Linked DNA regions of Homo sapiens: regions 1, 2 and 3 are each linked to region 4. Evidence: fine-mapped expression QTL. A gene starts in region 4. Each other region holds a variant in brackets. All regions are shown on one strand. Distances are from middle to middle.

Evidence for each region. PIP is the estimated chance that this variant, and not a neighbour inherited with it, causes the effect.
Region 1: its variant is fine-mapped to the expression of ABR in whole blood (TOPMed, PIP 0.96).
Region 2: its variant is fine-mapped to the expression of ABR in whole blood (INTERVAL, PIP above 0.99).
Region 3: its variant is fine-mapped to the expression of ABR in whole blood (TOPMed, PIP above 0.99).

The regions. Positions count from the first base shown.
Region 1 is chr17:1,207,496-1,211,495 of GRCh38, reverse strand. It overlaps a transcript of ABR not described here. Among named protein-coding and RNA genes, the nearest start is that of ABR-AS1, 28 kb to the right of the region's middle. The variant T/C (reference allele first, on the strand shown) is at 1,718.
Region 2 is chr17:1,099,830-1,103,829 of GRCh38, reverse strand. It overlaps ABR (ABR activator of RhoGEF and GTPase), which reads left to right. Exons shown (of 23, transcript NM_021962.5): 3 at 3,095-3,193. Among named protein-coding and RNA genes, the nearest start is that of ABR, 78 kb to the left of the region's middle. The variant T/C (reference allele first, on the strand shown) is at 1,886.
Region 3 is chr17:1,106,886-1,110,885 of GRCh38, reverse strand. The region is part of intron 2 of ABR (ABR activator of RhoGEF and GTPase); the gene reads left to right. Among named protein-coding and RNA genes, the nearest start is that of ABR, 71 kb to the left of the region's middle. The variant A/G (reference allele first, on the strand shown) is at 1,679.
Region 4 is chr17:1,178,398-1,182,397 of GRCh38, reverse strand. ABR (ABR activator of RhoGEF and GTPase) reads left to right here and starts at 2,417. Exons shown (of 23, transcript NM_021962.5): 1 at 2,417-2,731. The coding sequence starts at 2,671. ABR-AS1 (ABR antisense RNA 1) reads right to left here and starts at 771. Exons shown (of 3, transcript NR_187271.1): 1 at 470-771; 2 at 87-131. RefSeq lists an enhancer at 1,610-2,376.

The DNA.
Region 1 (4,000 bases), 29 kb before region 4:
GCTTTGTTTTCTAAGCACCTGCCACAGGACCTGGAATAATTTAGATAAGGACTGACTGCAAGTCAGACACCTCTGCAGGAACAGCAGAAGAAGATCGATTTTTGGTGGCTAGCTCCACTGAAATGGAATCCCACTGGGTCAGAGCAAAACCTGGAATCCATATTTTTATTTATTTTTCATTATTTATTTATTTATTTATTTATTTATTCATTTTTTTGAGACGGAGCCTCACTCTGTCGCCCAGGCTGGAAAGAAGTGGAGAGATTTCTGCTCACTGCAACCTCTGCCTCCTGGGCTCAAGCAATTCTCCTGCCTCAGCCTCCTGAGTAGCTGGGACTATGGGCGTCTGCCACCACGCCTGGCTAATTTTTGTATTTTTTAGTAGAGACGGGGTTTCACCATATTGGACAGGCTGGTCTCAAACTCCTGACCTCATGATCCGTCCGCCTTGGCCTCCCAAAGTGCTGGGATTATAGGCGTGAGCCACCACGCTCGGCCAGGAATCTCTGTTTTTAACAAGCTCGGGAGATTTTTCAGCAGCCAGTCCAGCACCCCAGAGTTTGGCAGGCTTTGCCAAGTGCTTGATATGAGGTGGTAAATGTCTGGCACCTTTAAAATATAGGGCCCTTTCCGTCCATCTGGCCCTACAGGTTGATGTTAAAAGGATGCAAAAATACGGTTCTAAATGTCCTTAAGAGGCTAAGGTTGGTCTAAGCAAAGCATGGAGGAAAAAGCCCTTTTGAGTTTGTGTGTGAGTAGATAGGAGTTGCCAGTTGGTTGATAAAGTGATAAAGTAATCCTTTTGTGTTAGGAGCCAGGAAGCAGAGAGAGAGGAAACAGCCCAAAGTGATTTTTGGCTTGAGAGCAAACACAATAGCAGAAAGCTGAGTGACACCTGGACGATAGTGCAGAGAAGCTGAGTGACACCTGGACGATAGTGCAGACAAGCTGAGTGATACGCGGACAATAGCATGGAGAAACTGAGTGACACCTGGACGATAGTGCAGAGAAGCTGAGTGACACCTGGACGATAGTGCAGACAAGCTGAGTGATACGCGGACAACAGCATGGAGAAACTGAGTGACACCTGGACGATAGTGCAGAGAAGCTGAGTGATAACGTGGACGATAGTGCGGAGAAGCTGGGTAGCAGAGATGGGGTTTCACCATGTTGGCCAGGCTGGTCTTGAACTCTTGACCTCAGGTGATTCACCCACCTCGGCCTCCCAAAGAGTTGGGATTACAGGTGTGAGCCACGGCGCCCGGCTTAGGTCAGAACTTTCTACGCAGGTAAAAAGTGACAGCCCCCACAGTACCAACACAGCTGGGCTGAGCTTCCGCCTCTCTAGATTCTGTTACTTTCTACCTCTACTTTCTCCCTGTCTCTCTAAGAGATCAGCCGTCACTAATTTAGTGCTTTACTAATTTAGGTGTCTTTGCCATGAAAGATATGTGTTTTCTTTTTTTAATTTGTTGGAGGTTCTGAAGGCACTTTGGCATATGTATCTGTTTTCTTCAGCAGCAAAGATCATCGTGGAGTTAAGATGGCAGCTTTGTTGTGATTCGTAAATTTGCTGAATTTGTAAATAACTGGGGATACCTGCTGGACTTTGATAAATGCAACTTTTTCCAGTGCTTAAAAGAATTGCTGCAGAAAATTTAGAGTGATTATACCTCCAAACTGCTCAATGAAAAAGGTCAACAAAACAGTATAATTA[T/C]CTATGTATATGTGTAACTCGTATGTGTGTGGGGTGTCCACGTCACCAAGTATTAGAAAGTTAAGAGAGAAGGATGTGGACAATAAAACACCACCCACTTCAAAGCAGGTGCAGAGAGTAAGGCATTGTATGTCTGATTTTATGACCACGAGAGGTCAGTTCTGGGCTACCATAAACTCTATCTGGAAGAAAGGGATTCAGGCACCATTCAAGCAAACTTTGGCTGAGCATGGTGGCTCACTGGGAGGCCGAGACAGGTGAATCACCTTAGTCCAGGAGTTCGAGACCAGCCTGGCCAACATGGCAAAACCCTGTCTCTATTAAAAATACAAAAATTAGCTAGGCGTGGTGGCGCATGCCTGTAATCCCAGCTACTTGGGAGGCTGAGGCAGGAAAATGGCTTGAACCCAGGAGGTGGAGGTTGCGGTGAGCCGAGATCACACCACTGCACTCCAGCCTGAAGGACAGAGTAAGACGGTCTCAAAAAAAAAAAGAAAGAAACAAACAGGTTAAAAGAGAAGGATGTGAACAATAAAACACCACCCACTTCAACGCAGCTGCAGAGAGTAAAACACTGTATGTCTGATTTTATGACTGTAAGTTCCAGGCTCCCATGAACTCTATCAATTCCAAGCTCCCATGAACTCCATCCGGAAGAAAGGGATTCAGGCACCATGAAGGCAAACTTTATTGGCACCTGCATTGAGCCGAGCAGTGAACCAAGGGAAAGAGTTCAAAATTCTGCTTCAGGAGCCTTCAGTGTAACTGTGGTACTAGGCTAGCAAACAGGTGTTCACTACATACATGTATGTACAAGAGAGACCCATACTAAGCACTTGCCGTCTTTAACTGACTTGGCAGGCACAAAGCAGGCTTTTTTTTTTTTTTTTTGAGACGGAGTCTCACACTCTCACCCAGGCTGGAGCGCAGTGGCATGATCTCGGCTCACTGCAAGCTCCACCTCCCGGGTTCATGCCATTCTCCTGCCTCAGCCTCCCGAGTAGCTGGGACTACAGGCGCCCGCCACCACACCCGGCTAATTTTTTGTATTTTTAGTAGAGATGGGGTTTCACCGTGTTAGCCAGGATGGTTTCGATCTCCCGACCTCGTGATCCGCCCGCCTCGGCCTCCCAAAGTGCTGGGATAAGAGGCGTGAGCCACTGTGCCCGGCCGGCAGCTCCCTCTTGAACCTCTCCCTTACAGAGTCAACAAGGGAGCAGTGGTCAGCACTTCTCTACCGCGACGTTAGCAGAGAACTCGAATCTCATTAGTAGCAAGGACTTCTCTGCCACAGATGTGGCTCTGAGACTGGTTCTTCACAGGCTGACAGGGGACCGTGGCATGCAGTGATGGTGTGGGAATCACCCGATCGAGACGCAGCACATGCTGCTGCTGTTCCTGGAGAGGAGAATGTCAATTCCTCAGCTGGCCAAGGGCACTTCACACTGGGGTGCCCTGCGTTGCTGCTCCTGACACCTAGTTCCTTCGGGTCACAGGCAGAGCTGCCTCCTGTGTGTCAGTTGCCCAGGAAGGCCAGGAAGAACAAGTTCTAGTATCCACCATTTCCTTTCCACCCAGGGACTCATCTGGGGGTCGAGCAACTTCTCTTTTATAAACACTCATAACTCAATGGGTCTGCTACACCCTCATTCCTAGACAAGAGCAGGGAGGCCATCTCTGATATCAATGGCCCCAAAGTGGTTGATCTGGACAGGTGCGGTGGCTCCGGCCTGTAATCCCAGCACTTTGGGAGGCCGAAGCGGGTGGATCACCTGAGGTCGGGAGTTTGAGACCATCCTGGCCAACATGGTGAAACCCCATCTCTACTAAAAATACAAAAATTAGGCTGGTGCAGTGGCAGGCGCCTTGTAATCCCAGCTACTCGGGAGGCTGAGGCAGGAGAATCGCTTGAACCCGGGAGGCGGAGGTTGCAGTGAGCCGAGATCGCACCTCTGCACTCCAGCCTGGGCAACAGAGCGAGACTCTGTCTCAAAAACAAAACAACAAACAAACAAAAAACAAAGTTACTGATCTTCTAAGAGAGGCTGTGCAAGGAATTACAAAGTCATAAGGTCTGTGATTCCAACAGTTTCCTTTTTTCCCCCACTTCTCTTTTTTTTTTTTTTTTTGAGACGGAGTTTCGCTCATGTTGCCCAGGCTGGAGTGTACTGGCGCCATCTCGGCTCACTGCAACTTCCACCTCCCGAGTTCAAGCAATTCTCCTGGCTCAGCCTCCTGAGTAGCTGGGATTACAGGCGCCTGCCACCATTCCCAGCTAATTTT
Region 2 (4,000 bases), 79 kb after region 4:
CCTGTTAGCCAAGTGCACCGAGGCTAATTTCCCATCCGTACGCTCTCCAACGCCTTTGCTCCAATCTCAGCCAAAACTGCAGCGTGAACGGGGCCCAGAGCAGGACTCTTGGGGCTGACTGTTGCCTCTTGAGGGAGGGTCTTCCTGAGTTGTCTTCCCATCAGAACCAGCCTTTCAAGAGTGGACTATGAATGGAAGTCTTGAGGGGAGGATCTTGCAGAAATGGGCGATTACAGGGCTTCCAGGGTCTATGCTCGTGCCAGGGGGGATGAAGCTTGTTTGTGGCTGGGGCTGCAAATCCCTTTCTTCCCCCCATCCTAGTCCAACCAGCTCTACAGTTACAGCTCACGGTGTGGCATTTGCTAAACCCTCAGGCAAAACCTTGGTTGGCAGGGAACAGGAGGGAGTGCTAGCCCCCAGCACAGGGGATGAGTTCCCATTTGTCAAGGCTGGGAAGCAGCAGGAAGACCCCTGAGGGTCTGACCTGGAGGGGCTGGAGCTGGGGGCTGTTCCAGGCTCTGATCTTGTCCCCCGGGGCTACGTGTGCTGGAGGCTGTGCAGGCCTCTGGCAGTCCCGACTCTCGGTGCCTCAGGAAGATGATAACACCTGCCAGGTTTTGAGACTCCGGTGAATTGAACCACAAAGATAGCTAAGCTCAGTTCCTGGAATTTGTGAAGCCGCCAATAAGTAACTATTGCCCTTGCCTGAAGCGTGGGGTCTGTCTTGCTTTTCTAATGCTGCTGAAACAAATCGCCACAAACTTAAGGGCTTAAAACCACACAAATTTATTCTCTTATACAGAAATCTAAAAAGGATCTCGGCCCGGCTCCATGGCTCACACCTGTAATCCCAGCACTTTGGGAGGCCGAGGCGGGCGCATCACCTGAGGTCAGGAGTTTGAGACGAGCCTGGCCAACATGGTGAAACCCCATCTCTACTAAAAATACAAAAATTAGTGGGTGTGATGGTGGACGCCTGTAATCCCAGGTACTCGGGAGGCTGAGGCAGGAGAATCGCTTGAACCTGGGAGGCAGAGGTTGCAGTGAGCTGAGATCATGCCATTGCACTCCAGCCCTGGGCGACAGAGGGAGACTTTGTCTCAATAAGTAAATACATAAATAAATAGATTAATTAAAATAAAAAGGATCTCCAGGGCTGCATTGCTTCTGGAAGCTCTAGGGCAAGCTTTTCCAGCCTGCGGCCATACGGCCCAGGACTGCTTTGAATGTGGCCCGACACAAATTTGTAAACTCTTAAAACATTATATATTTTTCTTTTAGTTCATCTGCTGTCGTTAGTGTTATTGTATTTTATGTGTGGCCCAAGACAGTCGTCTTCTTCCAGTGTGGCTCAGGGGAGCCAAAAGATCGGAAGCCCCTGCTCTAGGGGAGTGAGTTCATTTTATTGCCATTTCCAGCTTCCAAAGGCTCTCTGCATTCCTTAGCTCGTGGCCCCATCCTCTGTCTTCAAACCTACCAGTGTAGCATCTTCCAAGCAGTCCCTCACCACTACCCTGTCTCCCCGGCCCTCTCACTCCCCTTCTGTGGCCACGATGCCTCAGGGAAAGATGGCATTTTAGGCAGCAGGTAAAGAACGAACCGAAAGCTAGAGACCTTTGAAGATGAGGAGGCTGGTTCTCCTGCGTGTGGGGGAGACTGAGCGATGTCCTGGCTGTGGGAAAGACTGGAAGGGTAGGGACGGGCATCCGGGCCACTGCAGGTGGCTCATAAAGGATATGGTGGGCCCCATGTCCCAGTCTAGGGCCGAATCTTTACTTGTTTTTTAAATGTCTTTCCGGCAGGGTGCGGTGGCTCACACCTGTAATCCCAGCACTTTGGGAGGCCAAGGCGGGCGGATCACGAGGTCAGGAGATCGAGACCATCC[T/C]GGCTAACACGGTGAAATCCCGGCTCTACTAAAAATACAAAAAGTTAGCTGGGCGTGGTGGCGGGAGCCTGTAGTCCCAGCTACTCGGGAGGCTGAGGCAGGAGAATGGCGTGAACCCGGGAGGCGGAGCTTGCAGTGAGCCGAGATCGCGCCACTGCACTCTAGCCTGGGCGACAGAGCGAGACTCCGTCTCTAAAAAAAAAAAAAAAAGAAAAAATAAATGTCTTTCCCACTAGAGTCTAAGCCACTTGAGAACAGGGGCCACTGTCTGTTTCCCATGGTATCTATAGGGCCTGGTGGACATTCAGTAAATATTTATTGAATGAATAAATAAATGGACACATAGCCCAGTGGAATCCCCAAGTACTCGCGTTTTGCGGTATTCATACTCGGTCCTTGGCAAGCATCGGGCAAGGTGGCACTCTTAGGAGTTGAATCCAGCTCTGGTGTGTGGGACAGGCAGGAGGAGAGGAAGAGAGGGAGGAAAAGTCGGTTCGAGAACCCAGGTGGAAAATAGATTGAGGGAAGCAAAACGAGATGTTACAGGAGGAATATGGGTGATTGTCTTTTCCTTTTATATTTCTGCATGTTTTGTATATTTTTTATAATAATATCTGACTTTTATCCCCTATGAAAGTGTCGCTTAAAATAAAAGGAAAGGGGAAAGGGGGGCCGGGCGCGGTGGCTCACGCCTGTAATCCCAGCACTTTGGGAGGCTGAGGCGGACGGATCACCTGAGGTCAGGAGTTCTATACCAGCCTGGCCAACATGGTGAAACCCCATCTCTACTAAAAATACAAAAAAAATTAGTCTGGCATAATGGCTGGGCATGGTGGCTCACACCTGTAATCCCAGCACTTTGGGAGGCTGAGGTGGGTGGATCACCTGAGGTCAGGAGTTCTATATCAGCCTGGCCAACATGGTGAAACCCCATCTCTACTAAAAATACAAAAATTATCTGGGCATGGTGGCAGGTGCCTGTAATCCCAGCTACTCGGGAGGCTGAGGCAGGGGAATCACTGGAACCCGGGAGGCGGAGGTTGCAGTGAGCCGAGATTGTGCCACTTTACTTCAGCCTAGGTGACAGAGCGAGACTTCGTCTCAAAAAAAAAATAAAGGTCGGGGGGGAAGGGCAGGGAAGCAGACCGTCCACGCAGGGTTTTGGCCTCCTTGCTCATGAGCTGTTGGCTGTGCTTTGCGTTTGTGCAGGTGGAAGCAGGGAAAGGCCTGGAGATGAGGAAGCTGGTTCTCTCGGGGTTCTTGGCCAGCGAAGAGATCTACATTAACCAGCTGGAAGCCCTGTTGCTGGTGAGTACAGTCCCTGCTCTGGGGCCTTCCGGTCCCCCCGCCCGTGTTGGGTGATGTCATGCTCTGAAGCTGCTTTTGGAGTTGGAGAGGAAAGGGGACCGTACCCGTCCCTCCCTGTGGACAGAGTCTGCAGCTGGTCTGCTTCTGGCTGGGCATCGGGCAGCCCGGGTCATTGCCAGAAAGGGCCTGTGCCTCTCAGCTCCAGCTCTCAAAAGGCAGGAGAAGCACACCCGGCTTAGAGATGGCAAACACACCTGTCACCCACGACCCTGGCATAGGGCATCGTGAACCCATCATGGTGCTCTGCCTGCCTGGGCGGGGGCCGAGCGCCTTCTCCACGCTGTGCTCTGGGCAGTCATTCCCAATCAATCCAGTTAAGAAGTCTCTGCCGTCTTGTGTCCAAGTCCTTCTACCTCCCTGGGTGAGGGAACCGTTAGTGCCATCCTGAGGCCCCGTGTCAGGAAATATGAGGTGGGAGGCTGTGTTCTTTTTTTTTTTTTTTTTTTTTTTAAGACGGAGCTTTGCTCTTGTCACCCAGGCTGGAGTGCAGTGGTGCGATCTCGGCTCACTGCAACCTCTGCCTCCCGGGTTCAAGTGATTCTCCTGCCTCAGCCTCCCGAGTGGCTGGAATTGCACGTGCACGCCACCAGTCCTGGCTAATTTTTGTATTTAGTAGAGACAGGATTTTATCATGTTGGCCAGGCTGGTTTCCAACTCCTGACCTCAGGTGATCTGCCCGCCTTGGCCTCCCAAAGTGCTGGGATTACAGGCATGAGCCACTGCGCCCGGCCTGTCTGTGTTCTTTTG
Region 3 (4,000 bases), 72 kb after region 4:
CCCACCCAGGCAGGGACAGGGGAAAACCAGGGGCTGGAAGGAGATGGGTGGGGTGGGGGTGTGCCTCTGTTGAACCCTGGTGGCACAGTTCCCTGATCAAAGGCTGTTAGCCCTGGGGCCCCTCAAGGGCTCACCCCGCAATCCCCTGCTCTGTATTTCAGCTCTGCAACAGGATGGAGCCTCTCTCCAGGGAGGGCAGCTTCTCTGCTGCCAATGGAATTGCATGAGCCCCACCTAGAGCCCAGAGCTTCTGAAGAATTCTGGGGGGAGTGGGGGGCTGTGGCCTGAACTCGGGCCACAGGTGTGGTTCATTTAGACGGCACCATGTTGTTTTAAAATGTTAATTATTTGCCATCGTTTTAAAATCAGGAGCATTCCTGTTAATAAGCCAGATTTTAGCTTATTTTGAACAGAGATCAGGCAGCCATGAGCTTGCGTTTCCTCCAGCAGCCATCGGCTGGAGTGAGTGGTGGTTTCACCCTGCCCTACCTGGCTCGCTTCACCGGCTGGCCTCACCCGCAGGCCTCACCCGCACCCTCATGGGTGCCGTTTGCAACCTTTGCTCCATCGTTGGGTTGTAAAAGAGCTTTTCCCAGGGCCTCCTCTGGACTCCTCCTCCCATGGAAGGAGGTGTATGTGCATCTGGGAACTAGGGCCAGGGGGACCAGAATGTGGCCTCACTCCCTGCACAGTTGGGGGTTCTGCAACCATTGGAGAAGCCAGGGGAAGCTGGCTGGGAGTGGGCAGGGCCGGAGATGGTGCCTGTCCTGGGTTCTGTGTGCACTCCCCTTGCAGGATGGCTCCCTGCGGTGGGGTGGCTGGGGGGGCTGCTTGGAGGAGGTGGGGGTGCTGGTCTCAGCAGTGCCTGTGAGTAGGTGGGAGGCTGCTCAGAGGAGGTGGGGGTCCTGGTCTCTGCAGCGCCTGTGAGTAGGGGGGCTGGTCTGTGAGTGGGGGGGCTGCTCAGAGGAGGTGGGGGTGCTGGTGTCAGTAGCGTCCGTGAGTGGGGGGACTGCTCGGAGGAGGGGGGCTGCTTGGAGGAGGGGGATCCTGGTCCCTGTGAGTGGGACGCCCACCGCTCCTGTGCAGGACAGTGGTGGCGCCGCGCTCCTGCCTGGGGGCAGGTCAGGCCTGTCTGTTGCAAAGCCTGACTCCTCCAGCGGCGGCGGGACGCGGCTGTGGCTTCTGGGCGGGCCGGGGCCTCCCCTCCGGAAGGGGGCTCCGGCGCATGGGGACTCCGGGGTGGCTCTGGGGGTCGCCCCTGCTCGCCGGGCTCCTGGCTCGGCCGCGCGCGGGGAATGAAGATGCGTCTGGGAAGCGGCCTCCCCGCTCCACCCCACCCCGGCCCGGCCGCGGCCTCCTCGCTCCTCCTCCGCCGCAGAAGCCTCCGCCAGCCGCGGCCCCGCAACCCCAGAGGACGGGCGGCTCCACCTCGCGACGCGCGTTTCCTGTGTGTTCGGAGCGAGCGCGAGCCCGAGCCCCGGAGCCCGGGAAGGGCGGGCCCTGCGGGGCCGGGCGGGACACGGAGGAGGGCGCTGGGCTGCTGTGCGGCGGGTTCGCCTCCGCCACGGGCCGGGCACGGCGTCAGGGGCTGCCCGGGCCTTGCTCCCCCTTTCGCCGGGCGAGGACGCGCGAGGCGGCGGCGGCGGCGGCGGAGCGGGCTGGACTAGGTCCGGGATGC[A/G]GTCCCGGGTCGGGAGCCCCAGGCCGGGCGCGCGGGTGTAGACCTGCCCCCCCTCCCGCCCGCCTCCTCCCTCCTCCCTCCTCCCGCCGCCGCTGCGTGGACCCCGCTTCCTGTCTGCCCTCCGCGGGCTCCGGCTGCCATGGAGGAGGAAGAGGAGGCGATAGGCTTGCTGGACAAGGTTCTGGAGGACGAAGATGTGTTTCTCCTGGAGGAGTGCGAGCTGGGAACCCCGACCAGCCCCGGCTCAGGGTCCCCCTTCCTGGTGGCTGTGAAGGTGGGAGCGTGACACGCCCTGGGCGCTGGGGGGGGCCGGGCCGGCGCTGCCGAAGGTGCGCGGGAGAAATGGCTGATGCGGGCGCAGAGCGCGCGGCCGGGTGGAAGCCCTCGGCGGAGGGTCCCGGCCCCGGCAGCTGTTCCCGGGGGAGAGGGGCGGGCCTGCCTCCCCGACCGGTGTCCTCGGGGCAGTGGTGGCCGCCCCCTCCAGGCCAGCCCAGCTCAGGGCTCCGGCGGCTGTGCCAGGAGTCACCTGGCGCGCCTGTCAGCCCGAGCCTCGCCGCCTCCCTGGAGCGGGTGGGCAGGAATCCCCCGTTTCCACGGCAACCGCAAGAGAGGGGCCACCCTCTTCCCAGCCAGGAGACAGGGACTTGGTGTCTCCGAGCTGAGGCAAGAGGGTGTTTGCAAAGGGCAAGAGCCAGAGGTCACTGAGCTTCCTTGAAGGAAAAGCACTGGGTCAGCTGAAGGGGGGAGGGAACAGCTGGCTTGGAGGCTGCAGCCAGGTGGGCAGGTGCCCTTCCCGAGGCGGGACAGGCAGGGAGCATCTGCTGGGCCCTGGCCCACCCGCTCTGGGGCTGACGGCGTTCTCTGCAGCAGTGACCCGTCCTGTAGGAGAGGTTGGCTCCCGGTGGAACTGGAGGGCAGTGGTGGCCAGAATCCCTTGAGGAGCGGGGCGGCCCCGGAACCACGCCGGCTCTGTGAGTCTGGCCCGGCACACCACAGCGGTCTTCCTTTTTCTCTCCTGGACACACCTCTCAGAGCTTCCACCTCAGCCTTTTGCTCAGCTGCTCTCTGGTTCTGTGTCGAGAAGGGAGGCCCAGTGAGGATGCGTTTCGGGGAGTTTGCAGACTGCTAGGCGAGGCTGCCTAACCGAGTGCCCATCGGCGGGGCCTAGAAGGCATGTGCAGCCAGCATTGCTGGGGACGGGAGGCTGTCCCTGAACCTCTCTGGGCCTCCCTGCCCCTCACAGAAGATGGGGATCACAGTCCTGCCCCACCCACTCTACAGTGTGGCTCTGAGGAGGAGCCAATGGAGGTAAAAATAGATGCAGAACCACGGGAGATGGCTGATGTGTGAGTATGGGTGGAGCGGTGGCTGCAGGCCTGGGTGGGGAGTGGAGCTGTAGGGAGGCTGGCAGTGGCTGGCACCCCACCCTGTCTTCTCTGATCTGGTGCTGGCGTAGGGCCGTGGGGGTAAGTCACGTCTCCCCGTGGGCTCAGGGAGGCCTCTGCACTTAGGGTCTGACCAGCCTCCCCACTAGGAACAGGGTGGGAAAGTCTGCTCCTGAGCCAGGAGTCAGGCTGGGAGTAGCAATGCTGGGATGGGAGGTGTGTGGCCCTCATGGGCCTCCTCTGGGAAGCCCCCAGCACAGATGTGGGCCCACTCAGAGGCTGCCTCCTGGACCTCCCCTTCTGCTGGACCCCGGCGTATGCCTCAGCTAAGCCCGTATTTCATTCTGCTCAGATGCTCAGAACTCTAGACATTTGCCTCCGCAATTATATCCCATTCTCCTGGAGGACCAGGACCATGTCATATTCATTGCTGAACACTGCACAGTGCTTGGTGTGGGGCTGGTGCCTGTGAGAGTCTGCACAATGTGTGAGGCCCGCTGGGGCCCACGAAGGGTGCACCAGGTTCCCAGCCTCGCTCCATCTCAGAGGTGTCCTGCTGTGTACGGCGGTGGCCCACGGATGCCAAGAGAGCCTGAGCACGTGTCACACCTGAAAACGCTGCTCCTCCTGGGTCCCCGTGAGCACCGGGATGGTGTCTTCCCCTCTACTTTGCTGCCAGCATGGGGGAAGGAGACCTTTCTCGAATGCCGGGGAGTTCCAGGCTCCCTGCTCCATCCTGAACACCTCTAGAATTCCTCCCTCCTCTACCGGCATTGGCCTCAGAGGGAGAAGACAAGCAGGTGGCCACAGAGCGGTGGGAAGAAAGCTCCTGGATTCATTCAACAAACACTCTCAGGTTAGGTGCTCTTCAGAGCACCCTGCCTGGCACTGTAGAGATGACAAGAGGAACAAGGCGTGATCTTCCCTCACAAGGCGT
Region 4 (4,000 bases):
AGACTCTGTCTCAAAAACAAACAAACAAACAAACAGAAAAAGAGCATGAACAGAGTGCCAGGGTTCAAGTCCCAGCCCTCACTTACCCTCTGAGTGGGTTACTCAGCTGCTCAGGGCCTCGGTTTTCTGACCTGGAAAATGGAGAAAACAGAGATAACAGTGACATTCACGGTGAGATCACGCTAGTGAACGAAACGCTAAGCCGGGCACACAGTCGGTGTTCTGTGTTCGTTATCAGAAGTTTCCTCTGTAGAGCCCTCAAGATTTGTCTCTCCCTCTACCCTCTATCGTGTTGTGGAGTGGAGGGTCCGAGAGTGCCAGGATTGGACAGAATGTAGACAGAAAAAAGCAAACTATGGCAACGCGAAGGAAAGCAACTGCCACATTTTAGCTTGGAGGATGCTGAAAATAGCTTGTTCAAGCCTTTGTAGATAAAAATGTAAAATGTACGCAAATGTATGTGACTCACGCAGAAGCATACATCCATAGCTCCCTCACAGTCAGCGCCGGATGTGGCCATCAGGAAAACCCCACAGTGTGGGGAGAGGGCCCGAGCGTTCTTGCTTGTTGTTGTTTTGAGGAGGGGACGGTGCTGCTGCCTCCTGGGCTGGTGGCTCCTGGTGGCGGCAGCTCACGCCCGTTTCCACCTTTCCCCTGGGCTGTCTTCCGAGAGTTCCAGGTGGGAAGAAGAGATGCCCTTGGCCCCTCATGGCTCCTCCGGCCTCGCGGTCCTCCGAGAGCCTGCTCGTTCCCTTCCCATGCCGAAGCTCTATTTCTGGAGCGTCTCATTGGAGATGCACGCCCCCTCCCTGCCAAGCTCCAGGTGCCTGCTTGGCCCTCCCAATCCTGTGTGCTAGTCAGGGACGGTGGGAGGGTGACAGCTGCAGGGAGGGGCGGCAAGAGACAGCGCTGGTGCCTGAGCCAGGAGGATTGGGGCGGAGGGAGCCCTGGGGACGCAGGGACGGGCTAATAATATTGAAAACCACTTCTGCTGCAGCCACCTGTAGAGGCTTCCCCACCCAGAGCATCATCCTGTGCGTCTCCCAGGGGCTCCCCAGCCTGTGATGAGTGGGTGACCCCCATCTCCCCTGGGGCAGCTGCAGAGGCCTCTGCCCAAGCAGCTTATGGGGCTTCCTCTCAGCATCCTGGGGGAGGAGCTGCTTCTCCCCTTAAGAACTAGATGTGTGTGTGTCTGTTTGGAGTGATGAGGACCGACCCCCACACCCCTCCAGCGTTCTGCGGGTGCCGACCACACTGCCCCCGGCAAAGGCCAGGCTGACTTAACCTTCCTGGTAGGCCTCTGTAGGGCTGGGCTCCCAGAAGTTTTCCCCTTAAGCTGCCTGGGGATGGGGTGGGGTGGAGACAGCTCCGGTATCTGAAATGTCACTATCTGGGGTACCGGGCCCCCTGGGTGGGCCCCACTGCTTCCCTTTCCCTGGGTTCAGGAAGGGGCTTCAGCCCCACTGCCCTGGACCCCCCTGGCCTGACTCCCCTCCTGTCCTTCCCTGCTCCAGGGTCGCTTGGCCCAAAGAGGTCTGTGGGGAAGCTGCCATGGCTCCCACAGAATCAGCCCACAGGAGACAGGCATGGGGCCCCCAATCTCTTCACTGCCCTTGGGCGAGGGGGTCTTCCTTAGAGGGAATTTCGTCTCTAAACGGTCATTTCTCAGGCCTCTTGACCCGACTTCCCACCATTTCTAGGTGATGATGCAAACACGATGGGCTTTCCAGGCCGCGGCTCGGGGTCCCCAGGAGGGGTCCTGGAGGGGAACGCGTGGAGCCCTTGGGGCTTCTCCTGGCTCCAGTTTGTCCTCCGCCCAGGAGGGGCACATGTGGGACTGTCCTGGCCCCACAGCCCCCGTGACTTCGGTCCTCCCGGGTCTCCACCCGCCCCCCTCCATGTGTGGCGGGAACGGCCGCGCTCAGAGGTCAGGGGTGTGGAAAGGGACGAGCGGGGGAAGGTTCGGGAGGAGAGAGGCGCGTCCCGCGGCGCGCAGGACGTTCACCCCGTGGGTCCCGCAGCGGGTCTGGCTGGGGAGGGGCCCGGCCGCCGCTCCCGCCCGCGAAGCCGCGCTTGGAGATCCCGGGCGGGAGGTGATGTCACCCCTGTGGGCTCCCGGGCCCCCCACGGCACCTGGTTTGCGGATCGCCAGGATCCTGCTGAGCCCGGCGCGGGGGGGACGAGGGGGACCTGGGTCTGCGCCGCCGCCTGGAGACCCCCCGAGACCCCCGCGGCCCCTCCTCGCCCAGCGCCGGAGCCCCGCTGCCCCCTTAGCCCGGCCGGGGGCGTCCTGCGGAGGGCGGAGCCTCGAGCCGATTGGTCCCTCCCCGCCCCGCCCCCGCACCAAAGCCCCGCCCCCGCACCAAAGCCCCGCCCCACCACGAAGCCCCACCCCCGCCCCGCCCCCCGCGAAGTTGCTCATCGGTTCCGGGATCCGCAGCTGGGCTCGGCGCGGCCGCTGGGGCCGGGAGGGTTCGGGAGGGTTTTGGGGGCTCCCGCCCCGCCCTCGCCCCTGCCCCGGCCGCCCCGCGCTCCTCCCGGGGACCTGGTTCCCGGCCTCCTCGCCCCTCCGCGCTCGCAACTTCGGCCTCCCCCGGCTCCCGCCCGCTCTCCCTCCTTTGTTGCGCGATGAGGGTCGGGTTTCGGATCTGACCGAGCCGCCGCCGCGGGATGGAGCCGCTCAGCCACCGGGGCCTGCCGCGCCTGTCCTGGATCGACACCCTCTACAGCAGTACGTGTGCCGGGCGGGGGCGGGACCCCAGGATCGGGATCGGGACCCCAGGATGGAGATCGGGACCCCAGGATCGGGATCGGGACCCCAAGATCGGGATCGGGACCCAGGCACCGGGCTGGTCCGGGGAGCGCGGGCGGGGGCGAGATCGGGGTCCGGATCGGGGTCGGGTTGGGAATCGGGATCGGGGTCGGGACCCAGGAGCCGGGCTGGTCTGGGGGGCGCGGGCGGGGGGTCCCCAGAGAGGATTCCTGCGGTCCGGGGGCGGGGACCGTGGGCGGACCGAGCCGAGAGCTGCGTCCCCCCTCCCACCTGTTGTGAACCCGGCCTCCGCGAGCCTCAGGGGAGGGAGGCCCTTCTGGGTGCTGCCCCCGCCCCTGGACCGGCAGCTTCTCTGTCCAGGCTGAAGCCGAAAGGCCGTTTTGGGAGCAGTCGTTGGCACCCGAGTTTGCCACCCCAGGGGCACCGGGTCATGTGTGGTTCAGGGCCCAGGGGTTCGGTGCTGGGGTGGGATCGGGTGGGAGGGGAGACGGGGGGTGCAGATATCCGCGGGGGCCGTTTGGATGCGGGAGCTGAAAATCCCGGGCTCAGCAATCTTTCCTGCCAGCCTCATCACCACCCCCACCCTCATCATCACCACCACCCTCAGAAGAAAAAAAAAACAAACCTTCTCGAGTTCTCCACCCCCTCGCTCCCAAATCTCTCTGGATCATGTGATTGCTCTTGCATGGCCCCGGGGGATGCGTAACTGATCACGGGTAATGGTGTGGGGGGGCTTGGGGCGAACCGAGAGCCGCCCCCCGCCCCCACCACCGCACCTTGCTCCTGCTCCGTTGCTAGAAAGGCACCGCCCCTTCTCCCCACCCTTCCCTGAGACACCTTTCCCGAAAGCTCTCAGGGATTAGGAAGAGGGTCCTCCTGGGCTTACATAGTGGATTTCGCCCTTCCTGGCCCACGTGAGTGGGACCCTCCCACTCTCTCAGCACATCTCCCAGGCAGGAGTTGGGGGAGGCACGTGGGGCCACGTGGAGCCTGGTTCAGCCTGATTCTAGGCACTGGATGCCATGGAACAGGAGCGTTTTCTTTCTTTTTTTTTTTTTTTGAGACGGAGTCTCGGCTCTGTCGCCCAGGCTGGAGTGCAGTGGCGCAATCTCCGCTCATTGCAACCTCTGCCTCCCGGGTTCAAGTGATTCTCCCGCCTCAGCCTCCTGAGTAGCTGGGATTACAGGTACCCACCACCACTCTCGGCTAATTTTTTGTATTTTTAGT